Homo sapiens: one gene and its partners. The protein of the gene in region 1 interacts with the protein of each later gene in a pairwise test. Each region holds a gene or a part of one and is shown in the gene's direction. Other genes may lie near its edges.

Region 1 (3,500 bases):
CCTAGTCAATCACCTTGTTCTTGTTAAAATATTAATATTTAAAGGAGTCTTATACCTTTAAAAATGAAATTATTTAAAGTATATATCTTATTTTATATTGGCTTATTTTATTTTATAGTACAAATAATGTTTGGTTAATAGTATACATGTAATTTATATGTAAAATATATATTGGATTCTGTGGTCAGAGACTTTACTAATTTAGTGTGTAATCAAAACATTTGGAGATCACTAGATTCTGTGGTGCCTGGGATTTGTGTGGTGTTTCACTTTATGAAATGCTTTTGCAAATGTGTTCCAACTTGAACATCATCAACAGCCTTTTGATGCAGGGAAGTGTCATTATGCCCATTTTGTAGATGAGGCATTATTCTCATTTTATGGAAAGGTAACTGAAAGTCAGAATATTTAGATGACTTGCCCAGGGTCACACAGCTAGTTAATAGTGGCACCTCAGCGCCAGCACAGGTGTTACTACTAGATGGTGCTTTTCCATTTAATCCATTCATTGCCTCTACTGGTCATTCCTTTATACTGGCCATTCCTATTGTTTTGACTTCATGTCCTAATCTATTACTTGTTTTTCAGAGTTCTCAGGTACTTGCTTTTTGTGTTTTTTCTAGCGGTTTTAGTTATAGTCAATGAGAGAGACAACACAAGTAAATTAAGAAAAACTGGGAACAAAAGGATGGATACCAACGAGAAAGACAATATATTAATGATGAAAATAAAAATGGTAGTAGGTGTCTCAGAAGTCAGATAAATGCATTTGATGTGCAAAACATTTCAAAGGAACCAGAGAAATGTAGTTCAGGCAGATAGGTTGTTTGAACATTGGCCTGAGGGAAGGCTAAAGATGAATGTAGAAAATATAGTGGGTGTGTATGATATAGATATAGTTTTGTGCTATAGTAAAGTTGGCATTTATAAGCATAATGAATTAAGAATTGTGACGTTTATTTTGATCATTGTGTGTGCTTTTGATTTTAACAAAACTTTGTATAACAACATGTAGTCTTCTATTTTGATTGTTCTGCCAGTACATATAACAAAATGAACAAAATAGAGGAATTCTGTATAGGAATTAAAAGTTAAATATTACTCATCTGCTAATAGATCTATGGATAAACTAAGTTTAACATATTGAATAAAAATGATTGGGTCAGAAAAGTGACTTAGAAGTGTAGCATGGTTTCAGACGTCATTTTCTAGGTTACAATCACTGCCATAATCCAAGAACATGGAGATGTATTTAACAAAACTAAAATATAGTTTTAATAGGTTTTCATGAAAGTATGTTTTACATACAGCTTCTGTGGCCTTTTTCGTATTATAAATTCAAGGCATGGCTTGATCTTCTAGCCTAGTGGCAACACGTCTGGAAATAACTATGCATCACTAAAACTTTCATAGGGATTTTGTGTGCTTTGAAATATTGCATATATGGTTATAAAATTCCCTTAGTATTTACTGGCATATTAAACAAAAATGGCACTGACAGGCATATTATTGTCTGTGTTAATAATCTACACATGAAACACTCCCTCAGTTCAGCTGAACATAGTTCTTACCTCTAATTGTTCATTAGGCCAGTGATCTGTTGTGCTCTTAGAAGGAAAACCAAAATGGTGCAATTAAAATTTGAACCAATACCTGAAGTAGCTATACTTTTCCTTTTTTATTATTAAATGGAAAGATATTCTGAAATTTATGATAGTTTCAGTGGTTTAGAAGATGTTGGAGAATTATATTGAGCTTATCATAGTTTAAAGAACCCTGGACTGGGAGTCAAATCATTGAGATCTAGTTAACAACAGCTATGTTGTTGATGTGCCACATCTCAGTGGGCAAGTCAGTTACGCTTCTCCTAACAAATGCGAACTGGTCTAGTGTGGCTTGATCACTAATGGTTAAGCTTCTACACATAATTAGCATAAACAAATGATTTATTAAGCTTTAAAGATAGACCTCCAGTGATGTAGTCACATAATCTAGAAAAGCTGGTCAGCACTACATTAAGTTTTAGGGTATCTGGAGGAATCTTCCCAGTCAGCCCATAGAATTTTAAGCCAGTGTAGTCTGTCCACTCTGAGAAGCTGGAGCATCATTAAGGATCCCTTATCTCCATGTGAGCAGCTCTCCTCCGGGTTGCACAGCCATCCTTTATCTTCCTTCTGGTTGTGTAGTAAGTATTCATGTTCCTAAGAATGTGCAGAATGAAGAGATTCAATTTAACAGATGCCTGTTAAACTCTAACTGAATATAAGTAGAAATTCTCTTTAAAAACACACACTGGATTAAACAGTCTTGTCATTTTCTCTTTCATTTCCATCTGACTATGTCCATTGGCATGCTCTGTGTTTGCAGCTGGCCAGCTACACTCTAGAATGCCAGTGTTCCTACCAGCAGAGGTGTGTGCTTACCAAACAGCAGTTATGCTTATTTCTGAAACTTTTTATTACGTTGTGCATATTATTGGAGTTAAATAATTCCAGATTGCACAAGCTAATGAATTATGAGTGTGAAAAGAGAATCATTGTTGCTGTTAAGGCAAAGTAGAATGCAAAAGACTTGATAAAGATAAGCACAGAACAGAAATAGATATTGAATTAGACGTGGCTACAACAACTGAAAGCAAAAAAACCTGTAAAAATATGGAAGGATTATGCACTCACCTTGTTTCATACATGCCTTTAAATCCATGCTGTAACTCAAAGAAAGTGAAACTGTGTCCTTATTTATATAGTGGTGAGTAAAAAATACATAAATAAACTGCAAGCCATAGATGTTGCATTCTAGATGTGTTCATGTATCCATTTTAAATTAGAATGTTTAAAGTATGTATGGTTGTTGTGGTCACCTGCTTTAAGGTGAGTTTCTATTAACTGACCAATTATTGTTCATGATCCTACTAAGAGGGCTTCCTTATACTTGATAGTTGAACATAGTCAATCTACTTAAACCTTTGGAAAACGGTGGTGTTTGCAGCTTGGGCCTGCTTTCCATATGTATTCCTGCAACTTCCTCCAGTGGCCCCTTTACCTGTGTCTTCCCATCTTTCATGTGAGAACCATCATTTCTCCTTTAAGTTTACAGAAAAGTGTCAAATTTAAGTAAGATATGGATATGAAAAAAGTTAGAAATAAATGTGCGTGCTATATACTATAGATACTGTAATCTTATTATTTATAATAGGGAATCTATGACTCATGATTTAAGAAAATGCCCAGCTTAGACTTAGGTTTTATGTACAAAATCGATAACTTTTGCTTTCTTATTTGGCATTTTGAAACACCAGTTTGAGTGATTTCTTTAATTCTGAATAAACTAAACTAAACCTAAACTAGTAAACTAAAAACGATGATGAGTTAACTTCTATGGCTTGGAAGATATTGAAGATGTTAGAGAATTAATTGGTCTCAAGCCCTATGGGTATTAGAGTTTAAAGAACCCTATACCTGGAATCAGACTAGCTGGTCTGGTATCAGCTGTGCTCTTGA
Region 2 (3,500 bases), on another chromosome or scaffold:
TGGGCCCTTGGCTGTTCTCTGCCCCCTGCAGGCTGGCCCGGCCCAACCAAGTTGTCATGGGGCCCAAGACTCACAATACACCTGCCTGAGGCCACGATGCCACGGAAAGCTGGGCTCAGGGCAGCTTGCTTTCTCTCTGGCTGAGTGGAGGCCCTTGCTGTGTCCACAACTCCACTTCCATCTGCGCCTCAGGTCCCTGATAGGCTGGGAGGTTGCGGAGGGTGTGGGCCTGGTGCTGCTGTGGCTGCAGGTGCCCCCTAGGCAGCACCTCACCCTCTGAGGACCCTCCTCTCTGAGCTGCATCCCAAGGACAGTTTACAAAGCCCTTTGCTGACTGGGGTTCAGCTTATCTGTTGAGCAAACTTTTTCTTTAAAAAGTTTCTTGGCCAGGCACGGTGGCTCACACCTATAATCCCAGCACTTTGAGAGGCCGAGGCAGGTGGATCACCTGAGGTTATCAGTTCGAGACCAGCCTGGCCACCAGGGTGAAATCCTGTCTCCACTTAAAAATACAAAAATTAGCCGGGCATGGTGGCACACGCCTGTAATTCCAGCTACTCAGGAGGCTGAGGCACAAGAATTTCCAGAACCCGCAGGAGGCAGAGGCTGCTGTGAACTGAGATCATGCCACTGCACTCCAGCCTGGGCAACAGAGCGAGACTCCATCTCAAAAGTTTCTCAAGCCAGTGTCTCTAGGGCCTGAGGGCTCCAATCCCCAGTGTGAGGTGAGGCGCTCGGGCCTGGGAGCTGATGCCCAGCATACAGTCGGGGGTGCCCCTGCCAGGTGTGGTGCAGAGCACGGCGGGGGTGTGTGAGACCTGAGGATAGCGTCTGGATGTTTCTCTCACGTTAACGGGAATGAGATAGGCTCATTGGCTGCTCATCCCCAAATCCAAATGGAAAACCGCCATTCGGGCCAGGCAGAGGCAAGTACTCCCACCCGTTGCCGCTGCCGTGTTGAGCCCACCGTGCCGAGTGGTGTTGGCAGGAGCCTCCCGAGGAAGCTGTGCCAACGCAGGAGTGGTCAGAGCCTGTCCAGGCCACAGACGGGGCTACGATGAGCACTGCTGCCCAGGGCATGTTGGGGGCAGCTCCTGGAGACCACAGGGAGGGGAGGTGGGCACCCAGGTGTGGGCAGAACTGGACCAGGAGGAGGAGGGGCAGCAGCTTGCTCAAGGCACAGGGCCTCAGCCACAGGGTGGCGGGCTGGGAAGGGGCGAGGGTGTGGTGGGTTCTGAGTGCCCCATGCAACGGCTGTTTTGGGCCACGTGCTCAAGCAGGCACCCAGGGAAGACCAGCCTAGGTGCTGGCGTGAGGCCCTTCAACATCAGCTACGATGCTGCTTCATCAGGAGCACAGCCTGGGGAAAGAATGAAACTGACCCAGGAGACAAAAGGGTCCCCGGGCCAGACGGTCAAGCAGGAGGCTGCTTCGCTGCCGCGGGATGTGGCATCCAGGCTAGGCAAGGGGACGGCAGGCTGCCATCCCCAGAGGGAGTTCTCCGGGCAAGGCCGTGACCCCACTGGGGCTCTGAGTTTGCATCCTTCCTGTGTGTCAAGAGCAGAGCCGGCCACTGCCAGCCCATAGCTCCCATGGTGCGGCCCTGGAGAGCTGACTTCATGCGGGATGTCTGCTGTTCTTTGCGTAGCTTTACTGAGACAGAAAGCGTGTACTGTTCACTTCAGGTGGCCACAGTGTACAAGTCAGGGATTTTAGTGTATTCCCAGTTATACAGCCATCACCCCCAATTCTATCTAGATCAGCTCCATCACCTTAAACCTCAGGGCCATTGAGCAGGCACTTGCTGTCCCCTCCTCCCCCAGCTCCCGGACTCTGCTTTCTGCCTGGTGCCCAGCTTCTCACGCAGCATGCACTGCTCCTGCGCTTTCTCTGTGGCAGCCGCGGTTGCACGGCCCATGTCTTCCCCGCTGTGTGTTCATCCTCCACTGGACAGCTGGCTCTGCTTCCACTCCGTGGCTGTTGTGAATCCTGCTGCCGGGAGTGTGTGCACACACAAGGTTTTGAGTGGAGGCTTGACTTTGCCCTCTTAGATTTAGGCCTGGGAGTGGAACTGCTGGGTCCCCGGTGTTCTCATCAATTCTCTTCCAGTCTCTGGGAGAGGAGCCAGCAGCAGCTGCTTCGTTGTGGGTGGGGGGAAGGGGGAGGCCCGTTGTTCGGGCTCCCCTCCTTAATGCAGGCCTGAGCAGCCCTCACCTGGTGCCACATGAGCTACTCAGTCTTAACAGACCACCCCATCATGTCTTTGAAATTTGACCAGAGGCCAGACTTGGGGGCTTAAAGGAGTCCATGGAAAACCAGTCTGTTAACAGGGAGGGGGAGGAGAGTAGCCATCCCTGAGGAATGTGCATCCTGGGACCTTCAGGACAAGCCCTGGTCCATCTGTGTCGCACAGCAGCAGGATGTCTGCGTGGTAGGAAGTGGAGGGCTCCGGGGGCTCTGAACAGCTCCTTACCACAGTGGGGTCTACATCTCCTTCCAGGTGGCTGCGAGATGCAGGGCGTGGTGGGGGTGGGGAGAGGCAGGGGCAAGTGTCCTCTGGAAGCAGACTGTGGGCAAGACTGGAGTGGGTGTCCCAGCCATTCCTGGGCTGGGGCCACCGTCCAGGAGGCGTCCATTCCCTGTGCAGCAGGTACTGTATCTGTAGGGCAGCACCCACCCCTGCCGTCCTGGGAGCTTCCCAGAGGGGCCACGCTCCCTCTCCCCCTGCCTGGTGTGAGCAGAACACAGCAGAGTGCAGGACTGCAAGAATCACTGCAGAAGGGCGCCCCCGGAAAAGGCTCTGTTGTGAGACGTGTCCTACCTGGCCCCGGCAAGCACAGGGAAGGTGGCAGCTTGGTCCGAGTGCCCAGGCTGTGCGGCTGAAGGGGGAGTCTGGCACTTGGGGCTCCGGCGGAGGCTGAGGACTTGTGAGCCACTTCAGGGAGGTGGTGGCAGCAGCATTCAGGACCATAACCTAAATCCAAGGCAGCTCGCAATTGGACACAGTCCTCCAGAGCCAGTTGGCGTGAGGGGTTTGTTGAGGAAGGTGTGGTGAGGGGGGGTTTTGTTGAGGACACTGTGCTCACGGACTTTGGGAGTCCTCTGAGTTCCAGGGCCTCTCTGCTGGGCTGCATCTGACACTGGCCATGGCAGCCATGCGGGCCCTTCTGAGATTCTGAGGTCCCAGTTCCACAGGGCAGGAGAAGCCTGCTGACTGGCACAAAGGCCACACGCACCGAGACGTTTGCTTGCAGGGAGGCCTGGGTGGTTCTCTCCAAGGGGACCCTGGGAGAGCTGGTACTCAGGGTGTCGGGGCCACAAGGGAATTCCAAGGGAATTCCAGGACCAGCAACCTCAGACGTACAGGCAGCTGGGGCTTCTCTCCCGCGTCTGGACTTCACGGAGCTCAGGTTCTGGTGGGCCTTTGGTGTCCAAGCGTTTCTAACATCCTCCCGTACGCTTCCACCCCCGAGGGTCTGCTAGCTTGGTGAAAAGACGTG
Region 3 (3,500 bases), on another chromosome or scaffold:
CTCTAGTAATAATACAAAAATTAGCCGGGTGTGGTGGTCGACACCTGTAATCCCAGCTGCTCGGGAGGCTGAAGCAGGAGAATTGCTTGAACCCGGGAGGTGGAGGTTGCAGTGAGCTGAGATCGTGCCACTGCACTCCAGCCTGGGTGACAGAGCAAGACTCCATCTCAAAAAAAAGGCTGGGCACACAGTGGCTCACGCCTGTAATCCCAGCACTTTGGGAGGCTGAGGCGGGTGGATCGCCTGAGGTCAGGAGTTCGAGACCAGCCTGACTAACATGGAGAAAACCCCGTATCTACTAAAAGTACAAAATTAGCCAGGCATGGTGGTGCATGCCTGTAATCCCAGCTACTCAGGAGGCTGAGGCAGGAGAATCACTTGAACCTGGGAGGTGGAGGTTGTGGTGAGCCAAGATCGTGCCATTGCACTCCAGCCTGGGCAACAAGAGCGAAACTCCATCTCAAAAAAAAAAAAAAAAAAGACCAGCCTGGGCAACATATCAAGACTCCATCTCTATAAAAAATGAAAAAATAATTAGCTGAATATAGTGGCGCATGCCTGTACTCCCAGCTGCTGGGGAGACTGGTTGAGGTGGGAGGATAGCTTGAGCCCAGGAGGTCAGGCTACAGTGAGCCATGATTAGGTCACTGCACTCCAGCCTGGGTAACAGAGTGAGACCCTGTCTCAAAAATAATTAATTTTAAAAATGAAAAAATATATACATCTAGGTTTGTGTAAGGATGCTTTACGATACTCGCACAATGACAAGATCACCTAACCCTGTGTTTCTCAGAACTTACCCCCATTGTTAAGTGACTGACATTCTACTGATTGTGTATACAGTAGCTTACTTCAGAATTCCTCGTGTTCTGTTCAGTGCTTTAGATTGCTTTCACATATGCTTTAGTGGGAATCTTTGTGCATTGTCCCTTTTTCTGTAGTTAGGGTTATTTAGTCTGATTTTCATTAGAAGGATAGTAGTCTAGGTCATTATCAAGAAACCACTGTACTTTGTTTTCATCTGATTGTTAATACATTACTTTGGGTCTTTGATGTTTATTTATTTAGGCCTTCTTAGATGTTCAGTAAGGCATGTAGTGGATTATACTGAGAACAGTTGACGTGTAAGTTGAGCTTAACCCTATTCTTTTCTCTAGGATGTTTTAGAAGAATGTATGTCTCTTCCCAAGCTATCTTCTTATTCTGGATGGGTGGTAGAGCACGTCCTACCCCATATGCAGGAGAACCAACCTCTGTCTGAGACTTCGCCATCCTCTACGTCAGCTTCAGCCCTAGATCAACCCTCATTTGTTCCCAAATCTCCTGACGCAAGCTCTGCCTTTTCCCCAGCCTCCCCTGCAACACCAAATGGAACCAAGGTAAGGTTGTGATCAGCTTAAGACAAAAGACATGGTGGCTGCAAAGTCAAAATGTTTAATATTGTCATATGACAGTGACCATACCCTAGGGGAAATAATGATTGCTCATTGTTGTAGCTGTTGTAGAGACAATGTTGACAGCACCATTCAGTGTTCTCTTTAGACAGATCCAGAGGGAGAAAAATCCCCTCTATTCTTAGTACCGAGAATAGTATAACTAATTTCATGAGCAATTGGATTTTTTTTTTTTTCTGATGAACGCTGCGTCTGTTTAACTGATATGGTCTCCCTTTTTGTGTTATCTGCTGGAAGAAGGCTTAGAGTGAAATGTATACCTTCTCTTTAAGTTTACATGCCTTCTCTCATTGGTTCTGTAGGAGATTTTACCCTATTCCTGGCTCTGTTTTGTCCCTGCCTCTGTTTTTTTGTTATTTCTCCCACTTAAAAATGCTAAACTGGGGCCATTTCCTCTCAGAAGACCCCTCTCTCTCACTAGAGAGAGAACTATTTTCCTTTCTCTTTCTCTTGCCTATTAAACCTCCACTCCTAAACGCAAAAAAAAAAAAAAAAGTTAAATTGGACCCAACACAGTGGCTCATGTCCATAATTCCAGTGCTTTGGAAGGCCAAGACAAGAGGATTGCTTGAGCCCAGGAGTTCAAGACCAGCCTGGGCAACATAGTGAGACCTTGTCTCTCCAAAATACTTAAAAATTGGCTAGGCATGGTGGCTCGAGCTTGTTGTCCTAGCTACTTGGGACATTGAGATGGGAGGATCACTTGAGCCCAGGAGTTTGAGACTACAGTGAGCTGTGATCAAGCCATTACATTCCAGCCTAGGCAACAGAGTGAGTCCCTATCTCAAAAAAAAGTTAAATTTTGGAAGTTTTTTAAAATTACTTTTTATATACTTCTAGAGGTAGTTTGTGTATATACAAATATACGTGAACATGTCTTCTTCTTCACCCTCCCTTTTTTTTGAGCTGAGGTCTGTCTCTGTCAACCAGGATGGAGTGCAGTGGCATGAACATGGCTCACTGCAGCCTCCACCTCCCAGGCTCAATCCACCCTCCTGTCTCAGCCTCCCGAATAGCTGGGACTGCGTGTGGACACCACCATACTTGGCTATTTTCTTTTTCTTTTTTTTTTTTGAGACGGAGTCTTGCTCTGTCCCCCAGGCTGGAGTGCAGTGACGCAATTTCAGCTCACTGCAACTTCCGCCTCCCGGCTTCAAGCGATTCTCCCACCTCAGCCTCCTGAGCGGCTGGGATTACAGGCACCCACTATCACGCCCGGCTTATGTTTGTATTTTTAGTGGAGATGGTGTTTCACCATATTGGCCTGGCTGTTCTCAAACTCCTGACCTTATGATCTGCCCACCTCGGCCTCCCAAAGTGCTGGGATTACAGGTGTGAACCACCACACCCAGGCTTTTTTTTTTTTTTTTTTTTAAGATGGAGTCTAGCTCTGTCACCCAGGCTGGAGTACAGTGGCATGGTCTCGGCTTACTGCAACCTTTGCCTCCTGGGTTCACGCGGTTCTTCTGCCTCAGCCTCCCAAGTAGCTGAGATTACAGGTGTGCGCCACCATGCCTGGCTAATTTTTGTATTCTTAGTAGAGACAGGATTTTGCCATGTTGTCCAGTCTGGTCTCAAACTACTGACCTCAGATGATCTACCCACCTCGGCCTCCCAAAGTGCTGGGATTATAGTCGTGAGCCACTGTGCCTGGCCAGTTTTTTTTTTTTTTTTCTTTTTTACATAGAAAGTATTTTTTTTCTATCTAGTAGTTCATCTTTTAAAATATTAGTCTTTAAAAAATATTCTTTGTGGCCACGTGTGGTGGCTCACACGTGTAATCCCAGCACTTTGGGAGGCTGAGGCAGGTGGATCACTTGAGATCAGTAGTTCGAGAGCAGCTTGACCACAGTGAAACCCTGTCTCTACTAAAAATACAAAATTAGCTGGGCGTCGTGGCGCACGCCTGTAATCCCATCTACTTGGGAGGCTGAGGCACTAGAATTGCTTGAACCCGGGAGACGGAGGTTGCAGTGAGCTGAGATCATGCCATTGTACTCTAGCCTGGGTAACGGAGCAAGACTCAGTCTCAAAATATATGTATAT
Region 4 (3,500 bases), on another chromosome or scaffold:
GTTTCATTGGTGGGGAACTAGAGAAAAATGTCATGCCATAGAAGGAAATGGGAAGTCTGAAGACCCGGTTTGGTTGGGGGAAGGATGCTGCATTGTTCCAACATGATGGGAGTTGATGCCAGCTGAGTACGTGTGTTTGGAGATGCCTAGCTGGCTGTTGAGAACTTGTGTCTGAGGACACTGAAAAAGAAAGGTTCATACTTATGGAACTTCTATTAAATCACAGTTAAATGATTTAGGTGCCGAGAAGTTGGCAAACTTTGTTCATAGAAGAGTTTCACTGTAAAGACTAGGAAGTTACACATGTAATTGCAAATTGATGGCTATGTTTTCTTTAAGTGTACAACTGGCAGAATTTTAGCATCCTAGATATTCTTGTATAATCTTAGAACATATGTTTACAACTATTTAGTCAATATCATTTAGTTACCCATTATCATTACAGGTGCTATATTTCACAGTATAAGCACAAAATATCTAATAATAAGTTGCTGCTGAGAAAAAGAAGATGGACCTTCCATATGAGCTACTTAATGCTTCCATTAATGAATGTTAAATATACACCTTGGTGTCCTGAAGAGAAGAAGAGATGGCTGGGGTGGTGTCTATGCTTGCTGGGTGTCTTCCTCCTGGTTTCGTATTCTTTATCATAGGTGATATGAACATATATATTAGCTTATCATGCAAAATGAGATATTGTGAGTATAAAAGAAGACCCTGTCAATAATTATTCCAGGACAAAATTATATGTTGGGAGTGTCCTAGGAAAACTGAGGCAATGGTCACCCCACATACTGAGCAGTATCTCTCACACTTAGTTTCACCTTCTTTGAGGAGGAAATTAGTTTTAGTGCCTCACCTCAGGTACTTTGGGGAACTATAGCTTGAGACCACAGTCTTATGAAATGTCATAATTTTAAAAAGCGAGTTTGTCTATTTAACTGGCAAAGGGTATTTGTAAGATTATAATAGAATTGATGTCACATCTAAAAAATTTTCATAGAATTTTCAGTTCTGGGAGAGCATATCCACAGGCCACTTAGAGAAGCACTGTTAGAGTATAGTTATTTTCATTACACACTCATCTGTTCAGTTTTGTTATTGGCAAGACTTTAAGAACTTTAAAAAATTAAAGGAAAATGGAAAAAATATAGACATTGAAAACGAATGATCTGGCACAGATTTTGCTTCTGGGAAGCTGGAGTAGGCATACTTTTCCCTCTTCCTCCCAGCAACTACACTAAAAAGCCTAGACATTGCATATTGTACAGTTGACTCGTGGAGTCATGGAGTTAGGGGTGCCAACCGCTATGTAGACAAAACTCATGTATACTTTTATCTCCCCTCACACTTTACCAGTAGTCTGCTATTGACGGGAAGCCTTACTGATACCATGAACAGTTGATTAATACATATTTTTCATATGTAATATGTACTGTATGCTTATAATAAAAAAACTAGAGAAAACATTAACAGCATTACAAAAAGGAGAGAGGATACTTACTATTCATTAAGTAGAAGTGGATCATCAAGATTTTCATTGTCTTTGTCTTCATGTTGAGTAGGCTAAAGAGGAAGAGGAAGAGGGGGAGTTAGTCTCACTGTCTCAGGGGTGGCAGAGGCAGAAGAAAATCTGCATATAAATGGACCCATGCAGTTTCAACCCATGTTATTCAAGGGTCCGCTGTACAAGCTTAGGAAGATTCTGAAAGTAGTGAGAAGAATGTGGACAGAGTAGGGATTTTAGAACCCAAGGAAGAATCCAGAGGTGAATTTCTTGAGTTTTCTTTTTGCTACGTTACCTCAGATGTGGAACTGAAGAAGCTGGCAACCAGGAAATGTCAACATATATAGACAAAAAGAAAAGAGAAGAAAAAAGAAGCAGAGAGGAAGGGAGGGGCAGAGAGAGAGAGAGAGAGAGAGAGAAGGGAGGGGTAAAGGAAGGGGGAAGGGAAGGGAAAAGGAAGAAAGGAAGGAAGGAAGAAATCCCCAACAATGGCCTGTTTTTTATCCAGAGGACTCAGAAAGGGGCTGCCTAGCAACATAGAAAACATTTAGACAATAACCAGTCTACTCCAGCCAAATGCAACAGAAAAACTGCGGCCCTATCCTTGTCCCCACCAACACTAGTAAAGGCTGAGTGGAGAGCCTCTTGTTTGAAATTTCTGAAATAAAACACTCACTGATGGGTTTGACATAAGAATGGAAGGAACAGAGAAAAGAGTCAGTGAACTGGAAGTTGGAACATAGAAATGACACGGTCCAAATGGCAAAGAAAAGGTAGGCTGGAAAAAGAAAAAAGGAATAGAGCCTCAGAGACCTGTGGTTCTCCAACAGAGCATTTAAAGTTTGTGTCAGGGGATTCCTGGAAGGAGAAGATAATGGTGGGCAAATGCTCAAAGAAATAAGTGTTGGAAACTTCCAAAGTTTGCAAGAGACATAAAGTTATAGATGGATTTATAAAGCTGAGTGAATCTAAAACAGGAAAAACCCAAAGAAACCCACACCAACACACAACGTAATTCAACTTCTTAAAACTAAAGACAAATTTTAGATCTTGAAAGAAGCCAGAGAAATATCACACCTTCCCTATAGGGCTAACATTGTTCTAATTACAGTGGATTTCTCATCAGAAACCATGAAGGCTAGAAGGAAGTGGCACAATGTTTTTCAAATGCTGAAAGAAAAGAACTGCCAACCTGTAATATTATACCCAGTGAAAATGTCGTTCAGGAAGAAAGAACAAATCAATACTTTTTTTTTTAGATAAAGAAAAACTAAGCGAATTTGTCACCAGCAGACCTACCCTAAAAGAATGGCTAAAGAAATTTTCTAAACAAATGAAACAACAAAAAAAGGAATTTTGGAACACTAGGAAGGAGGGAAAAACATAGTAAGCAAAAATATGGTTAAATACAATGCACTGTTTTTCTCCTCTTGAGTTTTCTAAATTATGTTAGAGGGTTGCAGCAAAAGTTATAGCATTGTCTAATGTAGTTCTACATGTAGAAGAAACATTTCAGGCAAACATAAACACAGATGCAAGGAAAGGTAAGATTTCTAAACTTGACCTACAAAATAGCAACTGCAGTAGAGCATGACAAGTTAAGAATGTATAAAGAAATATCTAGAGTAATAGGTAAAGTAGGTAAATTAAAATACAAAATAAAGACAACACCAAATGCTGGTGAGGATGTGGAGAAATTGGATTACTCGCAAATTGCTACTGGGAATATAAAATGGTAGAACCACTCTGGAAAAGAATATAGCAGTTTCATAAAAAATGACATATGTATTTACCAGATGACAGAGTTATACTCTTAGTTATTTATCCTAGAGAAATGAAGACGTAGGTACACACACAAATCTGTATATGAATGTTTATAGCAGTTTTATTCACATTAGCAGAACACGGAAACAACTCTGATGTCTTTCAGTGGATCTGTGGTTCAACAAACTGGTACCTCCACACCCTAGAATATTACTCAGCAGTAAAAAAG

The links. Proteins that work in one complex are often made in the same cells at the same time.
Region 2: the proteins of ASB3 (region 1) and JPH3 interact in binary tests that used the Homo sapiens proteins (3 or more experiments, as listed by UniProt).
Region 3: the proteins of ASB3 (region 1) and GLE1 interact in binary tests that used the Homo sapiens proteins (3 or more experiments, as listed by UniProt).
Region 4: the proteins of ASB3 (region 1) and PRKN interact in binary tests that used the Homo sapiens proteins (3 or more experiments, as listed by UniProt).

Annotation. Positions count from the first base shown.
Region 1 is NC_000002.12:53,671,954-53,675,453, reverse strand, and holds part of ASB3 (ankyrin repeat and SOCS box protein 3), read left to right. Parts: intron 1-3,500. UniProt on the Homo sapiens protein: Probable substrate-recognition component of a SCF-like ECS (Elongin-Cullin-SOCS-box protein) E3 ubiquitin-protein ligase complex which mediates the ubiquitination and subsequent proteasomal degradation of target proteins. Recognizes TNFRSF1B.
Region 2 is NC_000016.10:87,693,008-87,696,507, forward strand, and holds part of JPH3 (junctophilin-3), read left to right. Parts: intron 1-1,629; exon of another isoform or gene 1,630-3,134; intron 3,135-3,500. UniProt on the Homo sapiens protein: Junctophilins contribute to the formation of junctional membrane complexes (JMCs) which link the plasma membrane with the endoplasmic or sarcoplasmic reticulum in excitable cells.
Region 3 is NC_000009.12:128,507,719-128,511,218, forward strand, and holds part of GLE1 (mRNA export factor GLE1), read left to right. Parts: intron 1-1,157; coding exon 1,158-1,379; intron 1,380-3,500. UniProt on the Homo sapiens protein: Required for the export of mRNAs containing poly(A) tails from the nucleus into the cytoplasm. May be involved in the terminal step of the mRNA transport through the nuclear pore complex (NPC).
Region 4 is NC_000006.12:162,437,767-162,441,266, reverse strand, and holds part of PRKN (E3 ubiquitin-protein ligase parkin), read left to right. Parts: intron 1-3,500. UniProt on the Homo sapiens protein: Functions within a multiprotein E3 ubiquitin ligase complex, catalyzing the covalent attachment of ubiquitin moieties onto substrate proteins. Substrates include SYT11 and VDAC1.